Linked DNA regions of Homo sapiens: region 2 is linked to region 1. Evidence: fine-mapped expression QTL. Tissue or cell type: whole blood. Region 1 holds a variant in brackets; the other region holds the start of a gene. All regions are shown on one strand. Distances are between the middles of the regions.

Evidence for each region. PIP is the estimated chance that this variant, and not a neighbour inherited with it, causes the effect.
Region 2: it holds the start of HOXA-AS2, and the variant in region 1 is fine-mapped to the expression of HOXA-AS2 in whole blood (TOPMed, PIP above 0.99).

The regions. Positions count from the first base shown.
Region 1 is chr7:27,075,102-27,083,203 of GRCh38, reverse strand. No RefSeq gene overlaps it. Among named protein-coding and RNA genes, the nearest start is that of HOXA1, 17 kb to the left of the region's middle. The variant A/G (reference allele first, on the strand shown) is at 3,306.
Region 2 is chr7:27,117,657-27,125,758 of GRCh38, reverse strand. It overlaps HOXA-AS2 (HOXA cluster antisense RNA 2), which reads right to left and starts at 3,840. Exons shown (of 4, transcript NR_122069.1): 1 at 3,733-3,840; 2 at 3,093-3,292; 3 at 2,121-2,299. HOXA3 (homeobox A3) reads left to right here. Exons shown (of 6, transcript NM_153631.3): 4 at 3,117-3,200. RefSeq lists enhancers at 891-1,688, 2,488-3,285, 2,864-4,063.

The DNA of each region.
Region 1 (8,102 bases):
ATATATTTTTAGCTCATCAGGTATCATTAGTGTTAGTGTATTTTATGTGTGGCCCAAGACAATTCTTCTTCTTCCAATGTGACCCCAGGAAGCCAAAAGATTGGACACCCCTGTTCTAGACTATAAGCAACCTGTGTTCTGGGAGCTTTTCCGCTTATTCGCCACTTTATGTTTACCCAGAAGACAGTTCTTGTCACATAGTAAACGCTCAAAAGACATTGAATAAATGTTTATATTAACTAGGGTCCAGCTAAGCTACTGTGACAAAGAAACCAAAAAATTAAGTGGCTTAAATATGGCTGAAGTTTAATTCTCTTGTATGTAACATGTTAGAGGAATGTAAGCATCTACACTGGTGGGGTACCTCAGCATGTGAAGTCATTCAGAATCTGTTTCTTTCACTGTGCTGCTCTGACATTCCCTAGTCTTTTCTACATGGTTGAAGCTGTGTCAGCTCCACATCCCTATTTCAGTTTTTAGGAAGAGGAGTAGAGCAAAAATGGAGAGCAAGCAATTTCCTGTGAAGTAAATGATTTGTAAGTTGTACACATTACTTCCATTTACATTCTATTCTTTTTCATGTTTCTAGAATCATAAAATTTATTTCTGATGCAAAATATATAGTATAGATGAAACATTAGTCAAGATAAAAAGCTAGATCAACAAACATTTATTAACATAATACTGGATGGGTACTGTTGGAAATAAAATATATGTTAGACAGGGTTTCTGATCATCAGGAATTTACAATATAGTTGGAGATTTCACTGACATTCCATTCTGATAAATGTAGTCATGTGGCCACACCTAGGATACTAGGAAATACCATCTGTGGGTGGGTGGCCATGAGCCCAGCTAAAGTGGAAGAAGGAGACAATGGGCATTGAGGGGATAACTAACCCGTTGCCTCACTGTTGGATAAATGCTGTTGAAAGAATGAATATATTTTTAAAAAGAATAAAGAATGGATATTCATTGTTAACATTGTCAGAGTTTGGAATAATGTAGGGGTTTGAGGGCTATTTTGTTTTTGTTTTTGTTTTTGTTTTTTGTGACAGAGTTTCACTCTTGTTGCCTAGGCTGGAATGCAGTGGTGTGATCTTGGCTCACTGCAACCTCTGCCTCCCAGGTTCAAGTGATTCTCCTGCCTCAGCCTCCCAAGTAGCTGGGATTATAGGCGTGTGCCACCACGCCTGGCTAATTTTTGTATTTTTAGTAGAGAGAGGGTTTTGCCATGTTGGCCAGGCTGGTCTTGAACTCCTGACCTCAGGTGATCCATCCACCTTGGTGTCCCAAAGTGCTAGGATTACAGGCGTGAGCCACAGTGCCCAGCCTTGAGGGCTATATTTTAGAACTCTAAGAAATACGGTTGTGATACAAAAATATTAGACACTGACTAAAATAACATCAAATATGCTTTATGACAACCTATTCATCTGCACATTTTGGGGCAAGGGAGGGTTAAAGACCTAAGAAAGTTGCTTAGGCCAAGAAATTGTGCAAAAGAGGTCAGCACTGGATATTGTAGAGACACACCTGGCTTTGCTAGAATTTGGGGAGGAGGGAATAGGAGCTTCTCTGCCTTCAGCAAGCTTCCAGGAATAAGCCTTTATCTGCTATAGCTAGGCAAGACCCCCTCTAATACTTCCCTGGCTAGAAGGAAGCTATTTTGAGGCAAGGACGTTGTTTGATTACAAACCTTTGTGATCCTAAATTCAACACCAACAAAGGCTTTGAAATTCTTAGGCCAAAAACAGGGCAAAACCAAATTGTAACTATTTTAAAGGATGTGGATAAAATTTATGTTCCAATGATATATCCTGATACAAACATAACTTTTTAAAGAGTGTAGGCTGAGTATGGAGTTATATGAAAATGTTTGCACCTGTCCTCCCCTAAAGTGGCTAAGGGCATGTTGGCAAGGCTTGTCATCAACTGTGTTCTCTGTGTGACTACAGATAAGAGGAAGGGGCCCAGCTGCTGCCACAGCCCTTTTTCTTTGTGGCTGCGGTGGACACTGGGCTTGTCATTAGCTTCTCTGGCCTTAAATTCCCTCTGTGCAAAGAAAGGTAACCCATTCCCCTCCTCCTGTCTCCTTTCATATTTGGCTGAAAGTTTGGGAAACCCATTTCAACCCTTTCTTTGCCTTTCAACATGTCACATTCCTTCAAGCTGAGCTCACAGGTCTGTCCGTATGAAACCTGCTCTGACTCTCCCCAGGGCAAGTGAATCCCATCTCTCCTGTTCTTTTTCAGTGTTTTCTACTTGTCAGAGCGCTTCTCACTTTTGGGCTTTAAATATTTTTAATCTGTTTGCGACTCCTCCTTGCAAACTACTTCAGGATAGAGACCATATCTTATAATTCTGTCTGCCTTGTACAATACCTGGCACGTGGTAGACCCTTGGTAAATGTTTACTGAATGCACGAATGAGTGAGTAAATGAGCAAATGATCCTTTGGGTTCTTTCTTTATAGCCTCTCAGCTATTCTTTTTGTTGTTGTTGTTTTTTTGAGACAGAGTCTTGCTCTGTCGCCCAGGCTGGAATCCAGTGGCGAGATCTTGGCTCATCGCAACCTCCGCCTCCCGGGTTCAAGAGATTCTCCTGCCTCAGCCTCCTGAGTAGCTGGGACTACTGGCACATGCCACCACGCCGAGCTAATTTTTTGTGTTTTTAGTAGAGATGGGGTTTCACCATGTTAGCCAGGACGGTCTTGATCTCCTGACCTCATGATCCGCCTGCCTCGGCCTCCCAAAGTGCTGGGATTACAGGCGTGAGCTACCGCGCCCAGCTCCTCTCAGCTATTCTAATGTGGTTCATGACTCCCCAAGACTAGGAATACAAAGTGTAGTTGCAAGTTCTTCCTTGTTTCCAAAATATTTCTCACTTGCTTACTGAAGTTAAATTGAAGGTCAGAATTCTTTAATGGAGAAGCAATTGGCCTTTCATTATGCAATAAGGGATAAAATGGCTTAAAATGTAAATATTGCTTGAATTAACATACTGCTAAAACTTACTAGAACTAAAGTGGGCCAGGTGCGGTGGCTCATGCCTGTAATCCTAGCACTTTGGGAGGTTGAGGGGGATGGATTAGTTGAGCACAGAAGTTGGAGACCAGCCTGGGCAGCAGAATGTTACCTCATCTCTACTAAAAATTAAAAAAAAAAAAAAATTAGCAGAGTGTAGTGGTACACACCCATTGTCCCAGCTACTTGGGAGGCTGAGGCAAGAGGATTGCTTGAGGCTGGGAAGTCAAGGCTGCAGTGAGCAGTGACTGAACCACTGCACTCCAGGCTAGGTGACAGA[A/G]TGAAACTCTGTCTCAACAACAACAACAACAACAGGAACTTAAGTGTAACTAGTCAGTCAATCAAAAAGTGTAAATAACATACTAGTTTCTTTTCTGTTTTGCAGGGGGTGGAGGTCAGAGAGAAGTTAGTGTTTGGGTTTTAGTGAGGGATGGGAGGGGAAGGGGGTCAAAAGGTCATTTAGATAGCTACAGAGCATAGAAAGAGAAACTAGAGATCACTGATTTAGCACTTCCTTAATGTTTCAATTTTCAAGAGAAGTATGGCATAACTGCTCTTGTTTGCAATTTTATGAGAATATTGTTAGGAACTATGTAGCACAATGAACACCATCTTATATTATAGAATTTGATAAGATCTGGGGTGTTTGTGAATGTGTGGACTTAAAAATGTTGACTTTGTTTCAGAGGAACTGAATTTTCAGAGGAGTTAATAAAGGAGTCATATAATCTGGATTGTACCTAAAATACCTCTCCCAGTGGTAGAGCAGTTTGGGTACTTTGTATGACTAAGTGACATTGGAGATGGCCCCAGACAGGAAGGGGTAGATGGTATGCCAAGATTTAGCTGGAGCTTCCTAAATAGAGGCTGTCATAATCTGCATTTTTGGGTAAATTGCTATTATCAAATGATCACGGATAACTCATATATATAACAATAATTTTTTTTTTCTTAGAGACAGGATTTTACTCTCTCACCTAGGCTGGAGTACAGTGGCATTTGGGAAGTGAAAAGCAAATGTAGTCATATGTTGCTTAATGACAGGACTATGTTCTGATAAATGTGTCGTTAGATTATTTCATCTTTGTGCAAACATCATAGAGTGTATTTACAGTAATATAGATGGTATATAACCTAGTACACACATAGGCTATATGGTATAGATGTTCCTAGGCTACAAACTTGTACAACTTATTACTATGCTGAATACCGTAGGCAATTGTAATACAGTGGTAAGTATTTGTGTATCTAAATGTTGAAAAGATACAATAAAAATACGTATAAAAGATAAAAATGGTATGCCTGTATAGGACACTTACCATGAATGGAGCTTGTAGGACTGGAAGTTGCTCTGGATGAGTCAGGAGTGAGTGGTGGGTGAATGAGAAGGCCCAGGTCATTATTATCCACTGTTGTAAACTTAATAAACACTGTACACTGGCCAGGCGCAGTGGCTCAGGGCTGTAATCCCAGCACTTTGGGAGGCCAGGGCGGGTGGATCACCTGAGGTCAGGAGTTTAAGACCAGCCTAGCCAACATGGTGAAACCCCATCTCTACTAAAAATACAAAAATTAGCCAGTCATGGTGGCAGGCACCTGTAATCCCAGCTACTCAGGAGGCTGAGGCAGGAGAATCACTTGAACCCGGGAGGCGGAGGTTGCGGTGAGCCGAGATCATGCCGCTGCACTCCAGCCTGGGTGACAGGCAAAACTCCATCTCAAAAAAAACAAAAAACAAAACAAAACAAAACAAAAGCCATTGTACACTTAGTCTACACTAAATTTATTTATTTTTAAAGTTTTTTTTTTTTTTGAGACGGAGATTCACTCTCGTTGCCCGGGCTGGAGTGCAATGGTGCAATCTGGGCTCACTGCAACCTCCACCTCCCGGGTTCAAATGATTCTCCTGCCTCAGCCTCCTGAGTAGCTGGGATTATAGGTGTGTGCCACCACGCCTGGCTAATTTTTGTATTTTTAGTAGAGACGGAGTTTCGCCATGTTTTTGAGATAGAGTCTCACTCTGTAGCCCAAGCTGGAGTGCAGTGACGTGATCTTGGCTGTCTGCAACCTCTACCTCCCGGGCTCAAGCGTTCCTTGTGCCTCAGCCTCCTGAGTAGCTGGGACTACAGGCATGTGCCGTTATGTCCAGCTCATTTTTTGTGTTTTAGTAGAGATGGGGTTTCACCATGTTGCCCAGGGTGGTTTCGAACTCCTGAGCTCAGGCGATCCGCCCCGCTCAGCCTCCCAAAGTTCTGAGATTACAGGCCCAAGCCACCGCGCCCAGCCCACTAAATTTATCTTTTAAAAATTAGTTTCATTATATCCTGACAGCTATGACATCACTAGGTGATAGTAATTTTTCAGCTCCATTATAATCTTATAGGACCACCATTGTATATGTGGTCTATTGTTGACCAAAATATCTTTTTTTTTTTTTGAGACAAAATTTCGCTCTTGTCCCCCAGGCTGGAGTGCGATGGCGCCATCTCGGCTCACTGCAACCTCCTCCTCCCGGGTTCAAGTGATTCTCCTGCCTCGGCCCCCCGAGTAGCAGGGATTACAGGCGCCTGCCACCACGCCTGGCTAATTTTTGTATTTTTAGTAGAGATGGGGTTTCACCATGTTGGCCAGGCTGGTCTCGACCTCCTGACCTCAGGTGATCCACCCGCCCTGGCCTCCCAAAGTGCTGGGATTACAGGCATGAGCCACCGTGCCCGACCATTGTTGACCAAAACATCTTATGTGGCACATGACTGTATGTGCAAACAGGGGCCCAGTATTACACAATTAGTTGAAAATTTGCTACTTCTTTATTATCAAATGATCAGTTTGACTTTTTAAAAATCTCGCTTGAACTGGAATTGAACCAGAGTCTGAGAGTCAGTTGTCCTAGGTTTTCATTTCTGCCTCCACAACTGACTAGCTGTGTGATATTTCAGAGATCATTACTCCTCGGTAGATCAAAGTGAGATTATGTGAGTTTCAGGGCCCATTCCAGGCCTAACACTTTCTGTATTTTTATTCAGTAGCAACAATTAAAGCATTTCACATAACACACCAGTAGCAAAGTCTGGACTGGAATGCATGCCTTACAACCCACTTAACCTCCTTTTTTTTTCTTTACTTTTCAAACTTTTTAAAATTAAAATATAATATACACATAGTATAGGAAGTACACACAGTATACTAATCTTTGTTTTGAGACAGAATTTTACTCATGTTGCCCAGGCTGGAGTGCAGTGGTGCCATCTTGGCTCACTGCAACATCCACCTCCCGGGTTCAAGTGATTCTCCTGCCTCAGCCTCCCGAGTAGCTGGGATTACAGGCATGTGCCACCACGCCCGGCTAATTTTTGTATTTTTAGTAGAGATGGGGTTTCTCCATGTTGGTCAGGCTGGTCTCGAACTCCCGACCTCAGGTGATCCGCCTGCCTCTGCTTCCCAAAGTGCTGGGATTACAGGTGTGAGCCACCGTGCCCAGCCAAAGTATACTAATCTTAAGTGTTTAGATTGTTGAATATTTTCAAACTAGGCAACAAATTATAATTGAGCTATAAGATTCATCCTTTTAAATGTATAATTTGATGAATGTTGATAACTATGTAGAGTCAGATTACCACAACCACAGTCAAAATATAGACTGTTTCTATCATCCCCAAAAGTTTGCTTGTAACCCTTTGCAGTTCCCTCCTTTTACCCAAATCTTCTGGTAACCACTGACCTATTGTCTATCCCTCCAGTTTTGTCCTTTCCAAAATGAAATCATACTACATATAGACTTTTGTGTCTTTTTTCTATAACGCTTTTAAGATTGATCACATACCTGTATTTGATGTGTATCTCGATCATACTTGATGTGATGTGTATCTGATGTGTATCTTGATTACTTAGATCAAGATATAGAACTTTTCTAGCATCCCAGAAGATTCTTTTGTGTCCTTTTCCAGTCAATTCCCACCCCTCATGCCTCACCCCCACTATTCTGACTTCTACTGCTGGATTAGTTTTCCTATTTTTGTATTTCATATAAATGGATTCATACGGTAGATACTGTGTGTCTATTTTCTTAATGTAATATCCGTAGGATTTATTCATGTTATAGCTAGTAATAATAGTTGTCCTTTAAAAAAATAACTGTGTAATATTCCATTGTATGAATATACCATGTTTCATTTATCTCTTCTACTGTGGTGACATTTTGGTTGTTTTGTATTTTTGGCTATTTTGAGTAAATCTTTTCCTTTTTAGACATGGAGTCTCACTATGTTGCCCAGGGTGGCCTTGATCTCCTGGGCTCAAGTAATCATTCCACTTCAGCCTCCTGAGTAGCTGGGACTGCAGACACATGCCACCACACCTGGCTTTGAGTAAGTCTTATAAAAAACTTATAAGAACACTCTTCTTAATGTCTTTTGGTGAGAATATGTATCCATATCTCTTGGCTATGTTCCTAAGAGTGGAATTGTTAGATCATAGGCTAGGTATGTGTTTAGCTTTCATAGAGGCTGCCAAACACTTTTCTAAAGTGGTTGCACCAATTTGTTTATTTATTTATTTACTTATTTATTATTATTTTTTTGAGATGGAGTCTTGCTCTGTCACCCAGGCAAGAGTGCCGTGGCATGATCTCAGCTCACTGCAAGCTCCACCTCCCAGGTTCAAGCAATTCTCCTGTCTCAGCCTGCTGAGTAGCTGGGACTATAGGCGCCCCCCACCACGCCCAGCCAATTTTTGTATTTTTTTTAGTAGAGACGGGGTTTCACCATATTAATCAGGCTAGTCTTGAACTCCTGACCTCAGGTGATCCGTCTGCCTTGGCATCCCAAAGTGCTGGGATTACAGGCGTGAGCCACTGTACCCAGCCGGTTGTATCAATTTAATACTCTCACCATCAATGTATGAGAGTTCCAGTTACTCCACATCCTTGCCAACACTTGGTATTGCCAGTCTTACTAATTTTAGCTTTTTGGAGAGTGTACTGTAACCACTGCTTTTGGAGTGAAATTGCATGTACACCACCAATAGTGTCATTTAGAGATGTAGAGAATCAGGAGTGATCAGTCAGGTTCCTTATGTT
Region 2 (8,102 bases), 43 kb before region 1:
GCAAAAAAGCCTGGGGCTTCCCCTCTGAATGAGTGGGTTCTGTGCAGGCAGTAGGCTGCCCTTGGCACTCCCCTGGTCTCTGCATCCCTAAACACAGTCTTGTATAGCAGAACACAGGCTCACCTTTCTCAACTGCTGCTGTGTTGCCCCTTCCCTATATTATACACTGTCCCAAGAATAATTCTGCTTCGTGTTCCAAAGAAACACATGGGCTGGAAACAATAGGAGGAAGAGACGTGTGTTCTGTTCCCTTGATGGTATGAGGGAGGCTGCTGTGGCTGTCTTGAAACCCTCTAGGCTGCAACTTACAGAACTCTGGCACCTCTTCTGAAGACTCCAAAATCACGGGGCAACCCCTTCCCTTTCAAGCCAGCCCTACTTTCTCTGGGATTGTTTCCTGGGGCTGAAAGAGATTCCCAGATTGAAAGACTGTCCAAAGTGAAGGAGACCTGGAGGCCATTTTGGTTCAATCTTCTTAATTTACAGATGAGAAAACTGAGGCAGCCGAATGATCCTCCCTCCACCGTTCCTTAAGTTAATGAGTACGAGGGTGGAATGCAACCTTTAGTCTCACTCTAGAGAGCAATAAGAGCACAGACATCTTTCCTCTTAGGAAGATATTCTGCCAGGAATGGAGGTATGCATCTAAGCTTACACTTGACCTGGACGGTCACAGGTGTGTACAGCCAGAGAAGAAGGATGGGTTCTTGCCTCATGGGCCATCAAAGCTGCTTGGGGAGATTTTGTAACCAAGCCACCCTAGTCATAGAGCTCAGACAGGTGGACTGGCCACTGGGCTCAGGAGGGGACAGATGTCAGGGCATCTCGGAGAGCAGTGGACTCCCCACTATCCACAACGGTCATAATCCCAGGATGACTAATTCTGTCATGCTTGCCCTGCTATTTCCATGGTGGTGGCTTGCCTCAGACCAGGGCAAGGATGAATGTGCCCCGGAGGCCGGCAGAGCCAAAAAAAGGACCCTGGTTGCAGCTGATAAAGGTGTAGCGCCTGTGCAAGGGAGATATTGAAATTGTAATCTTTGAGGTCACGTGACTCATTAAATAATTAATGCAGATCGTCAGGAATGGATCGGAGTCGTCAGGGCCTCACTAGGAATGAATCTCTCAGAAGTGAGATTCCAACTTACCATTTGATTTTTAAAAACACACACCCTCAGATTTATCTCCAAAGGCTTTTAACTCCTTCAGGAAGGCAGGAGAGAGCCCTCGGCAGGGAGGACGGAGCTGGCAGGCCCTCACCAGATCTTGGGGCCTTTTCCGCAGGGTTTCTGCGAGTCCAGGGAGCGCGCCGCGTCCGGGGAAACGTGAGTTCGGGCTTGGGTTTTCTGCGGTCACATCCTGGCTTTGGTGATGAAGTGGGACGGATGCGCAGACAGTTGGTAATGTTCTGATTCACGCTGGGGAAGGCTGCAGAGATACCACAGGACGGGCGCGCGGCTTTGTTCAATTTTCCCGGCGTTCATAAATCACCCGCGCCGGGCGAGCGAGGGAGCAAGCGAGCGCCAAAAACGCGGAGAGAGAGGCCACGGCGGCGGCGGCAGCCATTGTAAAGTGAGAGACCTGGGCAGCATCTCTCTGTGACTCATTAGTCTGAACGATTTATGGGGTACAGCAGCCATGAATATTAGACTTGGAGATAAGGAAACAGCAAAAATAATAACCATAATAATTACATACTCCTAAGTGTCACGCAGGGGAGTGGTGGGTGGCGGCATAGCGGATCTTTCTGGAATGAAATTGAGAGGCAAAGTGCAGGATGGCTGAGTCCACCTTGCTCATGGTCATGCCAGGAGCCCCAAGACCAGGGGGCACTCCCTTTGGGGACACAGAAAGCAAGTTTGAACAAGAGAAAGGGGGCGCAGCGCGCAGCGTGGATCCTGGGTCCTTTTCCTTTGGTTTGTGGGGGCTACGGGTCGAACTGTGGCAGAGCGCAGCTACCGGTGTGCGGCCACTTGTTCCACGTGCTAGGGGGCTCCGAAGCCAGGGGTCAGGGGACTCCTCAGCTATTTGATATCCCCTCTTAGCGCTATCTACAGAATTGCGTGAAGGCAGACAGACAGCGGAGGGCTGGTTTGGGGCAGGCTGGGGTAAGAGGTTACCTGGGTCTGAGTGAAGGGGTAGTCGGGGCAGGGATAGGTCTGTAGACGCAAAGGGCCCGCAGAGTCCCAGCGGAGCGCAGAACTTCTCCAAGCCAGGGTCCGGCGAGCGGACGATTCTTTCCTCTTTCCCCATCATCTCCCACTCCCAGAAAGCTGACTGCCGGCTCGGTGACCATTTGCTGGTTAGAGGGCAAGAGAGGGTTGCAAATACTGTGAGGGACGAGATTTGAGCAGAATCAAGGCATCAGATCGGCTTGTGGCCGTTGCGCAAGGCCAGGCAGGAGCAGGGCCCCTGAGCAGGTATTGTACCAGCCGGCGTCCCTCTCAGTTTCCAGCAGCCTTAGCTGGCCTGCTCTGAGGGACTAGGTGCTGCGGTAGCCCCGCCAGCCCACTAGGACCTAAAAGGAACGCACCCAGAGTTGAATAAACCAGAACACAAATCCTCCCAAGACTGCCTCTGGCCAGTGGAATGAACCCGGGTCTGATTTCGCGCCTACAGAAATGAACACATATTAGTGAGGTTTCAGGAGAGTCCGTGATTGAATGCTCCCAGACAAGGCTTCCTTTTGTTAGGAAAGGAAAATAAAGCAAGCATTCACATTCTCCAAGTTGTGGTGCCTGAGGAGAGAGCTCTCTGAAAGCAGCCCACACCACCAGCAAAGCCACTTCCACCTTCTCAGCTTCCTCTGTTTGCTTCATGTCCTTTCCTTCCCCACTCCCCCGCCAAAAAAAAGAAAGAAAAAGGAGAAAGTATGGGTGTGGAGATGGAGTATGTATTTATTTTACAAAAATAAATCACCATCTTCGGACCATTTGTAGACTGGAACATTTCGAGCAATGAGTGCGCCACACGGACGAGTGCCCTGGTGACTCCCTGATGTTCGCGTCACCCCCAGGGCCACCTTGGCGCCCGCATGAGCCTCGCTTCCCACTCCCGGCCTCCAACTCCCTTCCCTCGCAGCCGCCATTCACCTTCTGCTGTTTATTTGTCTGCAGAGCGCCTGGACACCGGAAAAGGCGATTCCCTGAGCGCCTGGAGTTGGAGACAATTCCTGGTTCAGAATTTAAACATCTTTCTAGGTAAGCGCTGCTCCAAAACTCTTCGCCGCGTGGGACTTTGCACCAGGGCGGTTGGGAGGAGTTGGCCCTCCACGGTTCCTGGCAACCGCGGCCTGTTGAAAGAGGTTCTGGTCAATATTTAACTTCGGAGGAGTTTGGAGTTGGATTCCTTTAAGCTTCTTGCCCTGCGAGTGCGGGGCCTCAGGCAGACAAAGAGCCTACCCCAAAACCAGCGATGGGCAGGAGAAGCGGTTGCAGAAGGCAAAGATGGGTTGTGGAGAGTCAGAGGGAGTGTGTTTGTTTCTTCCTGCAAGCCCCAAACAAACCACTACACTGAACTTCAGGGCAAAAGCAAGTAAAGGCCACGGGCACGGGCGCGGCGGCCGCTGCGTGGGCTGCTCTCTTTGTCGACTAAGGCGACTGCGGAGGCTGTGAGTTAAGAAATTGTCGCCAGTCCCAGCTCGCTGTTGAGGAAAACTTGTATCACACTCTTGCAGTTTCTTAGACCATTTTGCCTTTCCTTCGGCATGAGAAAAATTGCTGTATTTCTAACCTTTAGGCCTTCGCAGACAGCGGGTCTTCTTCCTTCTTTCATCAGGGCTCATCATCGGTTCTTCCTACGGGAAAAGCGTGGTTTTCTATGTCTTGGCGTTTCCTTTTCCTATTTGAAACAAGGGAAAACTCTTTTAAATTATTTTCAAGTTCTGACTTAATTTGTCCTCTTAGTTTGGGATGCAGGGAGGTAATTACTGTGGTTTATTACCTTGTAAAAGATCCATAAATTACATGCCTGTTTGGGGGAGGGGCTGCTGGAATAGCTTTCAGAAGCATGGTATGAAGGAATGAGTTTGCTTTGTTCTTTCAGGAATTACTTCTTTTTAAAAAGTTTTGAGATTTTGTATTCTATTTCCTAGGCCTCCAGTCTTCCCTTAAATTTGCTCCCAAATAGATATCAGGTTGTTAATTAATTGCAACATGATATTCAGTCGTGCTATAAGGCTGATATGGTGTTCTGGATACAATTATTTTTTCCAATAGAAGGTAAACAGAGCAATAGTCAAGCTGTGTTACTTTCTCAGCTACTGTATGTCTGTTTATATCAAATATAGATGGAACATTTCAGGAATTTGTAACTCTGTGTATATGATTTCCATCTCAGCAAACAACAGAACAATTGCATGTATAAATAGTTGCAGGAATTTGGGGCCTTGTGTATAACACAATATACACATCCACACGTGTCCAGAGAACTTGGCCCATTTCTCTACTGCACTTGCACCCACAGGAAATATCTCATGTTAAATAAGAATCTATCATACACACACACACACACACACACACACACACACACACACACACGCACACAGTGGGCTAAGAGAGCCTTACCTGATGCTGAGTAGAAAATCCACTAGATTTAAGTAATGGGACAAAAATGTTAAGTGTACTTTTGACAGAGAAATCAGATTGCAGTGTTTGAGTACAGATATATCTAATCTGCCAACAGCCTTGCAAATATTGGCTAACGGTGTGTACCCTTGGTTGCCTGCTTTTTCCAAGCCAGCTTTCCCCCTATTTTGGCTCTGGTGACCAGGACCACAGTATCAGTCCCAGCGCAGGCCAAGTTGGAGGCCGGTGAAGTGAGTGAAGAGGGACTGGCAGCTGGGTTTTTAAAAGGCCCGTAGCTTTGCTCCAGGAAACTGGATTGCAGAGTGGCAAAGGAGGACTGTCAGCTGCTGGTTCCCCAGATAGGCTGCCCAGGCCAAGATCTCTCATAGAGAAGCTGTTTTTTAACCTCAAAAGTTAAATGTCTTTTGACTTTTCAGATTTTTCCCTTCTCATCCCACCAAATCACCCATCCCACCCCAAGTCATTAATGTTAATTGTTAAACAGCAGTTGGAGCATTAACTGGATGTTAGCAGCCGTTTGGAGGCCCCAGGCTGGAGCTGAGATGCCTCTGAGCTTTGCTGGCGTTAAGGCATTTCTCTGAAGCAGTACCAATGACTTATTTCATTGATTTATGGCTTTTTTTTTTTTTTTTTTTTGACAGAGTCGCGCTCTGTCCCAGGCTGGAGTGCAGTGGTACGATCTCAGCTCACTGCAACCTCTGCCTTCTGGTTTCAAGTGATTTTCCCACCTCAGCCTCCCGACTAGCTGGGATTACAGGCATGCACCACCATGCCTGGCTAATTTTTGTATTTTTAGTACAGACGGGGTTGCACCATGTTGTTCAGGCTGGTCTCGAACTGCTGACCTCATGATCCACCCACCTCGGCCTCCCAAAGTGCTGGGATTACAGGCATGAGCCACCGCACCCGGACAATTTATGGCTTTAAGAGTTTTCATTTGCTCGACTGTTCCAAGAGCTTTGAAGGGGGCCCCTTCTCATCTTTGAGTTGATGCCTCTTCAGAAACTTGGGGGTAGGGAGGAATTTGCCAGCAATACCTCCAGGTCCCTTTCTAGGGTATCTGGAGAGCTCAGTGTGAATGATTGGTGAGGGGTATGAGGCAGGCAGCAGTAAGAATGAGAGGAGTGAGTTCTTGGGGGTCAGGAGAACGCTTTTTGGAAACCAGCTTCTACTCCTGTCCTCTATCCCCCAAACCTGAGAGAGGCAGGTTTTCACTTGGAGTTCTTACTTTCCAGCTTGTAACTTAGATAGGAGCTGGAAAAGTTCACATGGAGGTTCTCTTCCAGCTACACCACAGATTGAACCTTACTGAAATATTGTCACCAGCTTAGGCCAGGACTTGCTTCCAGGGGATTAGGTCTCTTCTTTTATTGCCTTTCTGATTTGGACAACCCATGAACAAGTTCTCTTATGAAAGGCCTTACATTTTCATCAGACCCCTTCTGTTCCTCTGCAGGGGAGGAGTGAAGGGGAGGAATCATGCACAGCCTCCTGCAGCTGCTATAAGTGAGTCCTCACACTCAGGCATAGCCAGCTGAAGACCCATTCTCCAGGAAAAAAAGAATATGGCCTGAGGATCTCACTAGCCTCAGAGCACTCTCAGAAGTTCAGAAACTAAGACCAGAAAAGAGAAGATTTTTAGACAGCTCATGAAACGGTACAATGTTGAAATTAGTGGGCAATGTCATCAGGCAGAAGGCAGGAGTAGGGGTGGAACCAAGGGTGGGAGCAGCTTATTTGTTTCAGTTAGGTTCTTCCTGAGCACAGTTGGTTCTCTACTGGTTTTCTGCTCAAGATTATTTTGAGAGTTCTGAAGGGGGCTCTTTCTCATCTTTGAGTTGATATCTCTATAGGAACTTGTGTGGGGGTGGGGAGAGAATTTGCTGGTGGACACAGAATTGTCTTGGAAAAGTGGGTGGACAGACCTGCCTGTGGAGAGGGTCCCAGATTGCCTTGTTAACTTAAGGCACTCCAGTGAAGGTTGATTCTTTTTCTTTTTTTTCTTATTTTTTTTGGGGGGGGGGGTCTCTTGCAGAGCAATTAGATCATTTCCTCTGATATTTTTTATGTTTAGAAACTTATAATTCCATGTATCACTCAGTTGTGCACTGAGGAAATGCTTAAGTGCAAGTTTAGTCAGGGCACTAGGTTTCTCTAGATTTTGCAAAACCCGGACCCACCACTCTATAGCCAAGCACATCTTTCCTAGTGGGCTCCCACTGAACAAAACCAACTGGACTTGGAGGAGATGCTTTAACCTTTTGTCAGGTAATTATGTGCCTTTTTGGTGTTTCTTGCGTCTGTAGTGTATGGTGTGGGTGTTAGCAAACTCCATACAATGGCAGGCTGTGAGGAAGTCCGCTGTCCAGGCCAGTTATTTCTGGGCCTGCCCCTTGCCTTTTGATATACTGGCCTGTGGGCCAGAGGAGACTGGGGTGCATGGGTGTGCAGGATCCAGCTTGTCCGTGGGTGGGAGGCTGTAAGGAAAGTTAAATGGATTCTAAAAATGTGAATAGCATTGCTGTAACCCTTGTGTTTGGAGGGTGTGTAAAGAAATATAAGTGGAGATAAGCTTGTATGTCTTATATGGCATTCATGGGAGGATGGCTCCAAGCATCCTATTGCTTAGACAGAACTCTTAAACTCAAAACTGCTGGTCAAGGTTCCCCACCTACCCTCCCCCAAAGCTAAATATTCTGTTTGGAAACCTAGTTCCTTCAGTGGTTCCCTATTTCAAATAAAAGGATTTAAGTTGACGTATGACCACGTGAGCACATAATACAGCGCATTATTGTGGCATTTGGAGCGGAGACCCAGACAGGCTTCGCCTGTGATTACGTTTTCTAGATTCTCTACAGAGCCAGAGCTTTCCCCCAACCCCCACGCACCCACCTCCTCCTTCTCCTTCCCCTTCTCCGGAGAGCGCTCTCTGAGCCGATTGCAGTTTTCAGCACTCATGGAGCGGTTCTGGGCGAGCTAGCCGATGGAAGTCGAGGCTATACCAGGAGGATGGAATTTATTTTAAGGTATTTCCGCCGATTGTTCATATCTAGAGTGAGTTATGGCTGTGAGAGACAAAGGTCAGGCGAGGAGACCCTGGCTCATGGACAGGACCCTCAGCCTCTCTCTTCCTTTGTTTCTCTTTTAGAACCGAAACCATTTGAAAGATTCCCAGTAGCGCCTCAGACTCTGAATTTAATTCCCTGGAAAGTGTTGGGGGTGTAAAGGAGGGGGCACTAGGGGGGCTCCTAGGTGGGCCCAGTGGCCCCCAGTGCAAGGGTGGCTTTGTCCACTGCAGCAGGGCAGGGCTGGAGTCTCAGGAGCTGATCCCCAGGCGGAAAGAGGGTCCAGAAGCCAGGTGCAGGCAGAGGTGGACCGGCTTGCAGGGCTAGATTGCCTGGGAGGGGTGGGGGATGGGTGGGTGAGAAGGGGAATCTCTCCCAGGATGGCGGTGTTTTCAGGCAGGGGATGGAGGATTAGGGGCTGACCTGAGCAGCCGGAGCAGCTGGAAGAGGG